2 linked regions of the Homo sapiens genome follow. The protein of the gene in region 1 purifies or fractionates together with the protein of each later gene. This does not show direct contact. Each region holds a gene or a part of one and is shown in the gene's direction. Other genes may lie near its edges.

What was found.
Region 2: the proteins of NAT9 (region 1) and PALS2 purify together in Homo sapiens (affinity purification with mass spectrometry; 2 studies listed by BioGRID and IntAct, with this or other methods). This does not show direct contact.

What each region holds. Positions count from the first base shown.
Region 1 is NC_000017.11:74,773,148-74,781,054, reverse strand, and holds the start of NAT9 (alpha/beta-tubulin-N-acetyltransferase 9), read left to right. Parts: upstream 1-4,709; 5' UTR 4,710-4,788; intron 4,789-5,202; exon of another isoform or gene 5,203-5,341; coding exon of another isoform or gene 5,342-5,356; coding exon 5,357-5,433; exon of another isoform or gene 5,434-5,451; coding exon of another isoform or gene 5,452-5,456; intron 5,457-6,651; exon of another isoform or gene 6,652-7,189; intron 7,190-7,366; coding exon 7,367-7,479; intron 7,480-7,907. Other genes in the region: SLC38A12 (transmembrane protein 104), read right to left, coding at 3,680-3,724. UniProt on the Homo sapiens protein: N-acetyltransferase that mediates the acetylation of the N-terminal residues of alpha- and beta-tubulin.
Region 2 is NC_000007.14:24,645,880-24,653,570, forward strand, and holds part of PALS2 (protein PALS2), read left to right. Parts: intron 1-3,732; coding exon 3,733-3,885; intron 3,886-4,605; coding exon 4,606-4,833; intron 4,834-7,691.

The sequences.
Region 1 (7,907 bases):
CTCTCTCCAACCAGTACTGTCCTGACAATCAAAAATGTCTCTAGACACTGCCTACTGTCCTCTGGGGGGCAGGATCACCGCTAGTTGACAACCACTGCTGTAGAGAGAGGTATAATGAAATAAGCATGCTCCCAAAAGAAACTTAGGAACCTTTAAGAACTTTACAAAGAAATGAATGAAGAGAGAAACTATTGGCAGTTGGGAGCAGAAATGGGTAATTGCAGTTGTCTTGCTTTGTTGCAATTTTTTCAGTTCCAAAGCAAGCCCTGTGTGTTTAGTGGGGGCTCAGGGAATCCTGCAGGGTAACGTAGGACTTCTCTGCCTTCTCAGGACTGTGGCACTCCTGGCGAGCATTCAGTCCTCTTCACCTTCTGTAAAGGTAATCAGTGATGGCCAATCACAATGAACAGACATAGAGGCAGGAAGCAAATCTGGGCTGAGCCACAGGTTGGGTCAGGAGGGGTTGTGGGGAAGGAAGAGAAAGGAGACGTTCTCTTCTGCTGGTCGTGGGACAGTTCTGTGGGCCAGACTCCTGGGAAGCAGTGGCAGAAAGCTGAGGAATAGGCTCTACTGCAGTCTTGATAATGAAGACCAATGCATGCATTCTAAACTGAGTTATCTCCAATTCTCACCTCTTCCTCTGTGGCTGCACTGGAGGAGGCACAGGCACTGCTCCCTGGGACGGCTGGCCTGCTCTCCTATGCCCTAGAGAGCTCAGTGCAGCATCCCACATGCCTCGTCTCCACCCAGCAGCCTCACTCATGACCTGCATGGGGCAGATGTCACCAGTATCTTTCAACAGCTTCCCCTCTGACAATTGTCAAAGGAAACAGAAGGCAGCAAAGATGCGGAAGCAATGACTAGGATTTCAGGGTGTGAAACAAGCCTCTCTCCTTCGAAAGCAACCGCAACAATCTTCAGCAGGAACCAGCAGGCAGAGGCACCCTCAGCGGCCGACCCTTCTGTCGGGCGTGACCTACAGCATCCTGTATTTTGATCACACAACAACCACTTCAGTTCTGTGTCACTCTCGGTCCTCATAAATGGGGAAACAGACATGCCTATCCTGAGATCCCTTAAGGGGACATGTACCTCTCTGAACCACGTTCCCGTGTTCAGCACTACCCTTGAGAGGGTGTGACATCTGAGCCACCTAGGAGGTTCGTCTGCTTGTTACAAATATTTTAGGCAGAATAATTCAAGCTAAAGCGAACATCCTTGGAACTCCTGAAGGGGAAAAGAACTCAAAATGAATGGGGCAATAGAGAGCTAAGGAGAGGCTTTGTCTTGTAAATGCGCGTGGGCTGAAGCACACGTATGAATGACCTGCCCCGTGTCTTGGTTTCCCAAGGCAGCCAGGGCAGAGCTCTGCCCACGTTGTCTTGAGCTGGGGCCTGCAGGGGAACTCAGAGCAGCCAGCATCAGCAGTGAGTTAGTTCCACAGCTTATCTGGGTTCAGTGACAACCAACTCTTCTGGTCTTACAGAGGACCAAGAATTGTTCCAGGACGGGGGAGTTAAGGAACCCTTAGGAAGAAGGTGTCTTCTCCCCTCAGAACACTGACCACTACACCTCCTGTTTGATGTCACATCATCCCCTCCCCATCCCACCCCATCTCCTCCCTACATCTCTCTTCACCAGTAGGATAAAACAACACAAGCACTTGTTTATGGCCAATGCCCAGAGCTGGCCCTCTGGGCAACAAAGACCCTGAACGAAATAAAACACAGAGGAGATGGAGAACAAAAACGGGCAGAGCGCACTGAAGCTTGCAGGCCTAACTGCCTCATTTCCTGTGGGCACATGCTGACATGTGAGAGGACCCCTTAAACAACCGGAGATACAAGAAATGGGGACATATCCAAGTGTTTTCCTTACAAAACTTAGTTACAGGGATGACTCATCTCCTTATCTCTAAATTTACAGATGTTGTAAGAAAAAGCAGGAGCCGTGGTGACTTTTACATTAATAGACAGCATAGAGATTTCATCACTGACAGCAGGAGGCTAGGAGCTGTTACATAATTCCACAAATGAGAGGGACACTATTTATTCCATTCCAGGGTTCATGAAAGACTTCACCTGAGAGGCTGGGTGCAGTGGCTCACGGCTGTAATCCCAGCACTTTGGGAGGCTGAGGCGGGTGGATCACCTGAGGTCAGGAGTTCAAGACCAGCATGACCAACATGGTGAAACCCTGTCTCTACTAAATACAAAAAATTAGCTGGGCAGGGTGGTGCATGCCTGTAGTCCCAGCTACTTGGGAGGGTGGGGCAGGAGAATTGCTTGAACCTGGGAGGCAGAGGTTGAACCTGGGAGGCAGAGGTTGCAGTGAGCCGAGATTGCACCATTGCACTCCAGCCTGGGCAACAAGAGTGGAACTCTGTCTCAAAAAAAAAAAAAAAAAAAAAAAAAAGACTTCCCCTGAGAAATTACACAGGTGATGGGTGAAGAAGGCTCCTTTATTGCCACACATGAATGGCACAGGCCCAATAGGAAGACTCTGGAATCAGGAAGGCTTTCTTCCAGCTGTGAAGGAAATGTCTTGGAGACACTTCCTTGTCCATCACACCACAATGCTAGTCTGTGAAGCTAGCAGAAACAGACCAGAGATCCCCAGGCTAGGAAGCTATGTACAAGGCAGGGCAGCTGTTGAAGGCAGGTCAAGTTCTAGAAAACTCTTGCTACTTAGGGCAGTGCTGCTTTTGCCTGGGAGGGTTGGTAGCAACCTGAGTCAACCATCTGATTATTCCAACCCTCTGGCTACTTATCCAGGCAAGAGGGCCCTGTGATGTAACAACTATGACCAATCATACGTTACATAGAGAAGATAAACTGCGTGTGTGTTGGGGGCAGCCAGAGGTAACACAGACCTAAGACAGTGAGAATCAATCATTCTAATTGTTCTAATTGCAGAGTCCACCAAACTGTAATTAGAAGTCTCTGTATGCTTTCGCTGCTTCTTACGCCATCCAAGACTATAAAAGTTGTGCAATTTAAAATTCAGTAAAGACCAAAGCGGTTTCCAACTGCTGAGATGAGCAAAACCCAGAGTCAACAGCTGTCAATCACTGTTCATCTGAAGGGCAGCACTGCAGGCAAGTGTGGTAGCCTGGAGATGAACATTATTTCTTTATTTTTGAGACAGAGTTTCGCTCTTTTTGCCCAGGCTGGAGTGCAACGGCTCGATCTCAGCTCACTGCAACGTCCGCCTCCCGGGTTCAAGCGATTCTCCTGCCTCAGCCTCCCGAGTAGCTGGGATTACAGTGCCACCATGCCCGGCTAATTTTGTATTTTTAGTAGAGACAGGGTTTTACCATGTTGGCCAGGCTGGTCTTGAACTCCTGACCTCAGGTGATCTGCCCGCTTCAGCCTCCCAAAGTGCTGGGATTACAGGCGTGAGCCACCGTGCCCAGCCCGGGATTAACATTATAAACAGCATGGCGATTTTGTTTGGCTTGACCACTCTGACAAACACCTTAAAAAGAGAATAAATCTGACTTACATTCTGAGCCACCACAGCAGCACTGTAGTCGCTGCCCCATGGAACTCCCCCATCCTGCTTCCACTATGGTCTGCTCAAGCAGCAGCACTCACTAGTCCCATCTCCAGCAAGCAATGTGCTTTTCTAGAAGCCAGGAACACTTAAGTGAGCAAAAGGTTCTATAAGTCACACTCACGTAGGAAGAGTAGAGTTCCCCGGTCTCTGTAATTTCACCCGCCATTTCCAAAAGTGAGGAAGGGCTGGCAGCAGAGGTTCCTTAGGTGCAAGGACGGCGGCTGCCGCAGCTCCTTAAAACAAAAGAGCAGGCTTCACCTATCTGATGGACTGAGACAGGGGTGGGAGGAGGCTTGCAGACTTCCCCTGCCACCTCTGGTTCTTTTATCACAGACACTTAGGGCCTCAGTATCTGTCACAAGACTCACCCCCGAGGGAGGGGTCACCCTGGATGACAGAAATCTGGACGGTTTCTTCTAACATTTCCCTTGCTGTGCAGGGCACTGCTCTGTGCCCAGCACGGATGTTTTCAATGCTGCTCGGGGTGCAAGTGATTTAAGGGGCCTCTAAAACCACTAAGTCTCACCCACCACAAGAGCCCCCTTTCCACGCTCTGGGGTGGTTATCCTCGTTTAGTTCCAGGAACCAGGAGCTCACTACCACACATGGGAGCCCAAGGAACTGTCTGCCGCCTCTGCCTAGGGCAGGGAGCTGGGGGCTTTCCTACATTGCCCTTCCAACTCCACTCTTGGCACTAAGGCCTCCTTTTTTTAATGGGGCCTCCACTCCCTGGCCCCACCTACTCTCTTAGGGTTCCCCACCCTCAAAGCTCCCTCTTTTCTCAAGAACCCCACTCCCAGCCTCTCCCTCTCTCTCCCTCCTGGAGGAGTCCCGAGTCTAGTGCCGCCCCGCCCCGCCCCAACCTATCCCGACCCGTCTCGTCCTCTCCCGCCCGTCCCGACCCGACCCGACCCAACACCTGCAGCACAGCCAGCTCCCAAGCCGCCGTCTCCCGCCGGTCCGCTGCTGCCGGCGCCAGCTGTCCAGCACCAGCTTCCGCAGCGCGCATGCGCCGGCCCCACAGCCCACCTTTTTCGCGCGCGCTGATTGGGCGCCTCGCGGGGGCGGGACCGGGATTGGGGCCTGGCGGCTGCCGTCAGCATGGCGGAAGTGGGCGGGGCGCGTTCTCACGCGCATGCGGAAGGGGCGGTAGCCGGCCGGGCCTGGGAACGTGGCTGGTTGGAGGAGGTAGATCACCCTTTCTGCGGGGGACGATTTCGTCGGTGGTAGGTGGGTGTGAGCTTGGCAGTACCCGGGTCCGCGTGGTTGGAGGGTCGAAGAGAGTGGTCTAGAACGCCACTCAAAGGGGAGGGCCTAAGACTAAGCCCGCCTTGCCCTGAAGTGGTCGGGGGCGGGGAGGGAGTGGCTAGAGCCCCGTGGGGTGGTCGCCGGGGTAAGAGGTTGGAAGTAGGTTTAAGGCAGGGCTGAAAGTTGATTCTGGGTTGGAATCCCTGGACTGGGGCAAGTAATGGGAGCTCTGGGGATACTTTGGTACTTGGTACTTGGTGCTTGGGTTTGAGGAATCGAAGTTCTGGGGAGTGGACGGAAGGAACCGGCAGAAACGGAGCCCAGGCTTGGCCTCTTGGAGTGGGAGTCAAGGATTGTTTAATTATCCTTAACCAGCCTGGTTCTCTTTCTTGCAAGAATTTTGGAGTCTGTATTCTTTGAAGTGTCTAGACGGAACTAATGACGGAAGTCAACTTAGCCCCAGCAGGAAAGCTGGAGCGCCTACCCAAAGTTGGAGGAAATTCAGGGTCCTGAAGTCTTTGCTCTCCCCATCTGCATGCAGGCTGCTACCATGAGGTTGAATCAGAACACCTTGCTGCTGGGGAAGAAGGTGGTCCTTGTACCCTACACCTCGGAGCATGTGCCCAGGTATCTTTCCCGCTTGACATGGGGTGCGTATCAGCACCCAGAGCTGTGTAAGGTACAGCCCCAGTCTCAGGGCTATTTCCCCTAAGAAGAAACATTGGTTGTGAGAAATAATTATATATGAGGGGGGAAAAAAGGCTGGGTGCCGTGGCTCACGCCTGTAATTCCAGGACTTTGGGAGGCTGTGGCAGGAGGATTGCTTGAGCCCAGCAGTTCGAGACCAGCTTGGGTAACGTAGCGAGACCTTGTCTCTACAAAAAAATACAAAAATTAGCCAGGCATGGTGGTGCACAGCTGCAGTCCCAGCTACTAGGGAGGCTGAGGTGGGAGGATTGCCTGAGCCCAGGAGATGAAGACTGCTGTGAGCTGTGATTGTACCACTGTACTCCAGCCTGGGTGACAGAGCAAGAACCTGTCTCAAAAAAAAACAAAAAAAACAAAAAAACAAAAACAAACAAAAACAAAAAAACGGCCGGGTGCGGTGGCTCACGCCTGTAATCCCAGCACTTTGGGAGGCTGAGGCGGGTGGATCATGAGGTCAGTAGTTCAAGACCAGCCTGGCCAACATGATAAAACGCCATCTCTACTAAAAACACAAAAAATTAGCTGGGCTTGTTGCCCGGCACCTGTAATTCCAGCTACTTGGGAGGCTGAGGCAGGAGAATCACTTGAACCAGGGAGGTGGAGGTTGTGGTGAGCCGAGATCACACCACTGTACTCCAGCCTGGGCAACAGAGTGAGACTTTGTCTCAAAAATAAAATAAAATAAAATAAAGGCTGGGCGCAGTGGCTCACGCCTGTAATCCCAGCACTTTGGGAGACCGAGGCAGGCGGATCACAAGCTCAGGAGAGCGAGACCATCCTGGCTAACATGGTGAAACCCCGTCTCTACTAAAAATACAAAAAAATTAGCCGGATGTGGTGGCGGGCGCCTGTAGTCCCAGCTACTCGGGAGGCTGAGGCAGGAGAATGTGTGAACCCGGGAGGCGGAGCTTACAGTGAGCCGAGATCGCGCCACTGCACTCCAGCCTGGGTGACAGATCGAGACTCCGTCTCAAAAAAAAAAAAAAAAAGAGACCAGCCTGATCAACGTGGAGAAACCCCGTCTCTAATAAAAATACAAAAAAAATAGCTGGGCATGGTGGCACATGCCTGTAATTCCAGCCTGGGCAACAAGAGTAAAACTCTGTCTCAAAAAAAAAAAAAAAAAAAATAGCAGAACCTGGGGACTGTGACTTCCTTGGGAGGAGCTGCCCATCCTCTTCCCTTTCATTCTCTCAGCTTTTTGGCCTTTCAGCAAGGAATTGCTTTATGTAAACTAAACGTGGAAGAAAAAGAAATTGTCTTCTCACCTAATTGTAAATTAGTGATGTTTCCCTGGTGCCAGTGAGTATGTTCAGTTCTTGGAGACTTAATGTTAGCTTGTCCTTGAACTCTGAGCTGATGAGTTGTGATATCTACCATTCAAAAGGCCAGGACTGAGTCATGATGGGATTCCTGTGGGGGCAGTTGGCACATGTCTGGTAGATTGGGATAGTGGTGCTGTAGATGGGTATTCTCTACTTGTAGTTTTCCGTTTGAGGGTTCCTGGTGCCCTAACTTCGTGGGATCTGTCCAGCCGCCTTTGTTGAGGTTGGCTTGCCATATACATCCCCTTCTGGAATTTGAAGAATGTTTGGTTTCAGACTGCTCCTCCGCACTGACCCGAGACAGGATAGGAAATTGGACAGATAGAACTGACTCGTCCTGCTGTTCTTGTGTAAGACTAGCTTGCTTCTGGGTCTTGTGTCTGTGGCCCCTGCCTTAGGAGCAATCATAACCCTTTGGGTCTTCTTTGAGCCCTATGTTAGCCCTGTCTGGTTCTGGACCCTCATAAGGTGTCAGACGTATGCCTCTGAATGAGTCCTCCATGTCTAAAGCCACCCCTCTGTCCCAGCAGGTACCACGAGTGGATGAAATCAGAGGAGCTGCAGCGTTTGACAGCCTCGGAGCCGCTGACCCTGGAGCAGGAGTATGCCATGCAGTGCAGCTGGCAGGAAGATGCAGACAGTGAGGAGTGCCCCCCCACTTCCCCTAGCCCTGGTACTGGGAGGGCTGACTCCACAGTCAGTCTCCAGGTTCCTTCCCTTTCCCAGCCCCGGCCATAGAAGCTTTGTGAAAAGCCTGGAAGGTGCTGGAACTCCTGTATTCTCATGGCCCTGAAGCCAGTCCCTGTGGCTGACCCTTCTGTCCTCTTCCCCACCCACTGCATCGGGCTTGGAAGGATTTGGAGAAAGTAGAGCATTTGGGGCTCTGGCTGTAAATTGAGGCCCTGCCCCTCATGTCCCTCACCACAGCCTAGTGTGGTGACTGCCCTCCTCTGTGTTCCCTGCTCTCTGAGAATTTGGTTGCTGGTTGGAGAGGCTTTTTCTGTATGAGGCAGATTTGGAATTTTGTAATGAGCTGAAGGAAGCTCTGGGACCCCCTCTTCTCCTGGC
Region 2 (7,691 bases), on another chromosome or scaffold:
TTGTGAATGGGATTGCCTTTCTGATTTGGCTCTTCCTTTGGCTGTTGTTGGTGTATATGAATGCTAGTGATTTTTGTACATTGATTTTGTATCCTGCAAAATTTGTATCATTCGGAAGGATACAAAGGACTTTGTATCCTTGGCTGAAGTTATCAGCTGGAGGAGCTTTTGGGCTGAGACTATGGGGTTTTCTATATATAGAATTACGTCATCTGCAAACAGAAATAGTTTGTCTTCCTCTCATCCTATCTGGATGCCCTGTATTTGTTTCTCTTGCCTGATTGCTCTGGCTGGGACTTCTAATACTATGTTGAATAGAAGTGGTGAGAGAAGTCATCCTTGTCTTGTGCTGGTTTTCAAGGGGAGTGCTTCCAGCTTTTGCCCATTCAGTATAATGTTGGCTGTGGGTTTGTCATAGATGGCTCTTATTATTTTGAGGTATGTTCCTTTAATACCTAGTTAATTGATAATTTTTAACATGAAGGGTTGTTGAATTTTATTGGAAGCCTTTTCTGCTCTATTGAGGTAATTATGTAGTTTTTGTCTTTAGTTCTGTTTATGTGATGAATCACATTTATTGATTTGCAAATGTTGAACAGACCTTGCATTCTGGGGATGAAGCCTACTTGATCATGGTGGATTAGCTTTTTGATGTGCCGATTGATTTGGTTTGCAAGTATTTTGTTGAGGATTTTGACATTAATGTTTGTCAAGGATATTGGCCTAAAGTTTTCTTTTTCTGTTGTGTTTCTGCCAGGTTTTGATATAAAGATGAGGCTGCCCTCATAGAATTAGTTGGGGAGGAGTTCCTCCTCAGTTTTTTGGAATAGCTTTTCTGTAGGAATGGTACCATCTCTTATTTGTACATCTGATAGCATTCAGCTGTGAATCCATCAGGTCCCAGGCTTTTTTTGGTTGATAAACTATTTATTACTGATTCAATTTCGGAGGTTGTTATTGGTCTATGCAGGGAATCAATTTATTCCTGGCTCAGTCTTCGGAGGTTGTATATGTCTAGGAATTTATCTCTCTTCTAGGTTTTCTGGTTTGTGTGCATGGAAGTGTTCATAGTAGTTTCTCATGGTTGTTTTTATTTCTGTGGGTTCAGTAGTAACATTCCCTTCATCATTTCTAATTGTGTTTATTTGGCTCTCCTCTCTTTTCTTCTTTATTAGTCTAGCTAGTGGCTTGTCTATTAATTTTTTCAAAAACCCAACTCCTGGATTCTGATTTTTTGTTGTTGTTGTTGTTGTTTTAATTTAATTTAATTAATTTTTTTTTTTTTTTGAGATGGAGTCACTGTGTTGTCCAGGCTGGAGTGCAGTGGCACGATCTCGGTTCTCTGCAGCCTCCACCTCCCAGGTTCAAGCAATTCTCCTGCCTCAGCCTCCCAAGTAGCTGGGACTAGGCAGTCACGTGCCGTGACACCCAGCTAATTTTTGTATTTTTAGTAGAGACAGTGTTTCACTATGTTGGCCAGGCTGGTCTTGAACTCCTGACCTCAGGTGATCTGCCCACCTCGGCCTCCCAAAGTGCTGGGATTACAGGCGTGAGCCATCATATCATGCCCAGCCTCATTGATCTTTTGGAAGGTTTTTTGTGTCTCAGTTTTCTTCAGCTCAGCTCTAATTTTTGTTATTTCTCATCTTATTCTAGCTTTTGGGTTGTAAATCAGAATTTTCATTAGAGGTTGCAAAATGACGTTTTTCTGTTCTACATTATTAGCTAGTATTCTTCCATAATGTAGAGCTTCTCATCAACTGGGCTGCTTAGTGCATTTCTACTGAAGAGGCAGGAATGTACTTGATCCTTCCTTTTACTAAGTTTCAAAGTGAAGAGCTGTTTAAAATTGCAGTTTCAAGTGGTAACAAATGAGTTTTTTCAGTCTTTTTTTAAATAGCATTGTGGATCTATGGATTTTTTATTCAGTGTTTTAATCTTTTACAATCCCTACTTTTGATTTTCAAATTGCCGTGACTTTGACGAGTTGTGGGCAAATTTTTACTATAAAAATCTGAAGCACATGAGATTTCTGAACTAGAGATAGAAATTTAAGAGTTGTCAATGCATAAGTAGTGGCTCAAGTCACAGGAGTAAATGAAACTGCCAAAGGAGGATATAGGGTGGAAAACTAAGCAGCGCAGGTTAGCAACTTCCAGCATTTATAGGAAGAATCCTTACATATGGATTTATGAGTTGTTTTATTGAATTTTTTTCTCCAGTGTTTCACAAATTGTTTTATGAAATGACCAGAAATTACCAATTATCCTGATTGCTTTTTTCCCGAACCTGTTAATATTTGCTTCTTTCTATTTTGATTTATTGTTTTTGAACTTGAATTCTATCCAGCCCCTCAAGAATGTTAACTTATCTTTATGTTGAATATGCACAGTTGCAGTAAAAATTATTCTTTTTTTTTTTTTTTTTTTTGAGACAGAGTTTCACTCTTGTTGCCCAGGCTGGAGTACAATGGTGCAATCTCGGCTCACTGCAACCTCTGCCTCCCGGGTTCAAGCAGTTCTCCTGCCTCAGCCTCCCGAGTAGCTGGGATTACAGGCACACACCACCACGCCCAGCTAATTTTTTGTGTTTTTAGTAGAGACAGAGTGTTGCCATGTTGGCCAGGCTAGTCTTGAACTCCTGACCTCACATGATCCACCTGCCTCGGCCTCCCAAACTGCTGGTATTACAGGCATGAGCCACCGCGCCTGCCCTAAAAATTATTCTTTTAGGATAAGAAATGAAAAAAAATTTAACATTTTAGTATTAATTAAGAAATTCCTTGGGAGGCCGAGGTGGGCGGATCATGAGGTCAGGAGATCGAGACCATCCTAGCTAACACGGTGAAACCCCGTCTCTACTAAAAATACAAAAAATTAGCTGGGCATGGTGGCATGCGCCTGTAGTCCCAGCTACTTGGGAGGCTGAGGCAGGAGAATCACTTGAACCCAGGAAGTGGGGGTTGCAGTGAGCCGAGATCACACCACTGCACTCCAGCCTAGGTGACAGAGTGAGACTCTGTCTCAAAAAAGAAAAAAAAAAAGCAATTCCTAGAAAGCTAGATCAAAACCACCCATGCTGGTAGCACATACATAGTAAGTATAGGAGGTAAAAAAAATACGTTATATTCGGGACTATTACTGACTTGTTTTTTTGCTCAAAAAATGTTCCTTTTATAAACTAAAACCTTTATTGGTAATATAAAATTTTTTGTCACTGATATAAGATGCTAATATTTATCCATTTTCTGTTGGACATCTTTTAACAGACGTTTTCTACATATAAAAAGTATATCATATTACTAACATAGCAATGTTAGGTAAAAATGTCATTTGAATTTGAATTTTTATGGTATTTTAGTAAATAGGATTGATGGTAAATATTGAATGATATGATGACAGTGGTGGCAATAAAACCCAGTACCTTCATTGCACCAGACTGGAAACCTAGGTTCAGTTTCCAGTGAACTTGCCAGTTTTTAAAAAGCATCACTAATATCTCTTCATATCTCAAAGAAGGAATATAATATTGTTTGATGATAATAAAACTATATATTTTTATATCTCTTAAAAATTATATATTTATTTGATCAACCTGATATTTGGGAATTTAATACCATGTGCCTTGGAAATTTTTAGTACTCCATTGGAATAATGAAATAACAAAGTACTTTTAGTAACAAATTTCATCCACATATCATAAATAACCACAGGCTATTTTGACTCCTTATAGTCACTGTTGGAGGCCCATGATATTGTGGCATCAAAGTGTTATGATTCACCTCCATCAAGCCCAGAAATGAATAATTCTTCTATCAATAATCAGTTATTACCAGTAGATGCCATTCGTATTCTTGGTATTCACAAAAGAGCTGGGGAACCACTGGTGAGTACAGATAAATCAGTACCCTATTAAATCTGAAATATGACATAATTTGTGGTTCAGTCACTACTCTGTTTCATTTTTTTTCCTTTTCATAATGTTATGAAAACTGTATTCTTGTTTGGCCTGTGTATAAAGACACAGCTGATGCTTTCTCAACTTGGTTTAGCCTGCAAAATTTAACTAAAATGAAAAGTTAAACTGAGCTAGAAGTAGAAATATGGCAAGGGGTAGCAAAAAATTTCAGAAGATGACTATTATGTTTCTTCCTACCCTTTGAAGACATGAACTACCCTTTGAAGAAATACTGACAGTATCAAAATATAAAAAGAAGTTGTTATTAAAAATTGAAGCCATACTAGGACTCTCTAAGTAGTGAAGTTTACTATTCCTTGGTAAAATTATTACTTCTGGATCCTGACTATAAGAACAGTGAGTGCAAAAAAGGAAAAGCCAGGAATAAGTCCATCAGAATGCACAAATACCTTTTCCTGCTCTCTCGAGTTTCCATTTAGCCTGTAAGATACATCCTATCCACTAGTGTAATAAACTATACTAGTACACAGTTTAATGGGAGTGAAATATTGAGACAGGAGAGAACATGGGAAAAGTAAGAATGATTCATTTTACCTAGTTTTAGAATTATTTTCTTACATATGCTCATGAATATTTAAGCATTTCTCCCTAATAATTAATGAGAAATCTGTTTCTTATTTTTCATAGGGTGTGACATTTAGGGTTGAAAATAATGATCTGGTAATTGCCCGAATCCTCCATGGGGGAATGATAGATCGACAAGGTCTACTTCATGTGGGAGATATAATTAAAGAAGTCAATGGCCATGAGGTTGGAAATAATCCAAAGGAATTACAAGAATTACTGAAAAATATTAGTGGAAGTGTCACCCTAAAAATCTTACCAAGTTATAGAGATACCATTACTCCTCAACAGGTTAGTAATAAAATTTTTGGTAGTATTAAAAATACTTTCATGTTTTTAATCACAGTGTTGGAAATAACTATCAGTTGCTACTATTTTGCTAAAGAAAAGAGAAAAAATTGATTTGAGTGTTCTGAAATGGCTTATTTTGTCATGGGTGAATTTTTGAATTTTTAAACAATGCTATTTTACTATTGTAAAGGAAATAGTAGATTTCTTCATTAACACCAGGAACCCTGGCATAATAGTAACCTACAGCTAGGTATCAGAAGAACCATAAAGTCTTTGAATTACTAATCTAGTAAACATTTCTGACAGCTGTTATGTTCAGGCATTGTATTAGGCCCTGGGAGAGGATAAAAATGCAGTCCAGATCACCTCCAGCTTAGTGTTTGTGTCATGGGTGAAATGACTGATGAGGCCAGAAAAGAGGATGGGTATAAAGAAAATCTTGGACCCCTGGTTTGCACACATTTGATCTGTATTTTAAAACTAATTTTAGGTAAACTAGGTAATTGAACGGGAAAATGTTTTAGTTATAGAGATTGTCTAGACTCGGTATGTTAAGTGAATTCAAAAAGAAGAGAGATGAGATTATGTAACCAGGTGGCAGATTTTTGAAGGTGTGAGGTGATTTGTGAACAACAGCTCTAATGAATGGTTAAGATGACCACTTAGGTTCAAATACCAGTGCTGCCAGTTATCAGCTTACCTTCTCTGTGCTTCATTTTTCTCATCTATATAGTTAGGGATAAAATTTGTTTTCTCAAAAGATTGTTATGAGGATTAAACGAGTTAATTCATGTAATGCTCTCACAGCAACACCTGGCACATAATGAGTGCTCAAGAAGTGGCTGCACTTGCTGTGGTGATGACGCAGTAGTGGTGAAATGGAACCGTAAAGAAAGAAAAAGAAATTGCGGAGGAAGAATTGAAAATTATGATAGGAGTGTTGGAACCAAAGAGAGGGTTTTCAAGCCTAAGTAATGTAGAAGTAGATGCCTCTAATGCTTAGGTTTATTCCAGAAATTTATTGTTTGATGTATGAATGAAATTATAAGTTTTCTTACATAAGATACTGCCAGTGTATCTTATTTCATATTGTTAAAATGAGAGTTTAAAAGTCTAGTTCTTACATTTCCATACAGTTATTTGAAATAACATTTCATTGAATGTCTATTTTAAACTGTTCTTTCAAAGGTAAGGATAGATTATTTAGTCATTAATATTAGCATGTAAATTGAACTTATGAAAATAGATAGGCTTGTAATTAACTTTGGTTGAAATGAAGGTAGTTTTGTGGTCCTCAAGGAAAAGAATTGTGAAAAATAAATGATATTAGTACTTAGACATTTCATATCACTAGTACCTCTCAGGCTACCTTTATTCCTCAGTTGGCAACTTTCAATTTGTGACAGCCTGAGGCCTTATCTTGGACCTGCGTACGCTGGAAGAGTAAAATCTAGGATTTACGTATTTTATTTATTATTATGTGTTAGTTGTAGTAGGAAGATCTTATTTTCCTTCTGTGGTCTAAACTCCAGAATTCTTCTAGCTCACCATGGCTATAAGAGACTTTTACAGGCAAAATAAAATTTTATAATATTAATAACTAGGGCTTTGGCCCAAATTCCTACATAGATTTTGCATCTGGTGAACTAACTGAATACCATGAAATGCAAGGACATTTAGCCTTGTTTAAACATAAGTTTTCCACATTCCATACCCTCTCAAACTCTGCTTTTCACTTAGCATTTAGAGCTGGGGAAATGAATTCAAGTAGGAGAGGAGGAGTCTTATAAGTCCGAGGTAGCCTGAGGCGTGTCCTCCCATAAAGAAGTAAAGAAACTATAACATGAAGGCTTCCAAAAGAACATCCAAATTGAGACTTTTTTTTTTTTAAATGAAAAGGGGAACATTACTCATATGCTGGAATAATAGGCATAAACCAGGGCATCTGCAAACCATGGGCATCCTACTGAGATGCTATAGGGAAGCAAGGGCATTTTGCGTCTTCAACTCTTTCACTAAAATCTCCACCATGTAGTGCTGTGGAGCTAGTCTCAGCTCTGGATTGCTGCAAGAGCAAATGAAAGCCAAGAACTCTTCCCTACCACGGTAATGTTTTTCAAAAGCATAGTCAGTAGATGATCTTTATCAGAATCGTTTCAGGTGCTTGGTAAAAGTCCAGAATCTGCTATGGGACATAAGTATCTATGTTTTAAATTTTGAGGGCCAGAGTGAGTTAGAAGTAGCCAATTCTGAAGTTCTTCAACTTTCTTATAGCTTAGATTTCCGGGGGCTATTCGTAATTCCATTTGTTTATTAAGGCCAACTGATAGGAATTCTCTCTTATTCTTTGGAACCAACATGACCTGGACAACTAGAAACAATATAAGAAAATATATTACAGGACTGTTTCATTCAAGGATATACATTAAAAATTCTCAACAAAATATTAGCAAATCAGATTTGATTGTGTATATAACAAAGATGATACAACATATCCAAGTTAGATTTATTATCCCAGGTATGCTAGGAGAGTTTCATATTAGAAAATCCATATGTATGTAACTAAGCACATTACCAGATGAAAAGAGAATAACCTCAATGGAGAATTTGATAAAATTCAATGATTTTTAAAAAATGATTAGTAAATTAGGAACAGAAGGGAAAAGCCTTAATTTTATTACAAAAAAAAAAAATAGAACAAACATTATTCTGAATTAACTAATGTTAGAAGCTTTCCCTTTAAAGTCAGAAACTGGCCTTGCAGCTGGTCTGCCTGAGACCTCTAGTGCCAACCCCAATACCCCACGAAGTTTAATTTCCACTCACGAAATTCCACTTTCGTTTTCATTATAAAATGA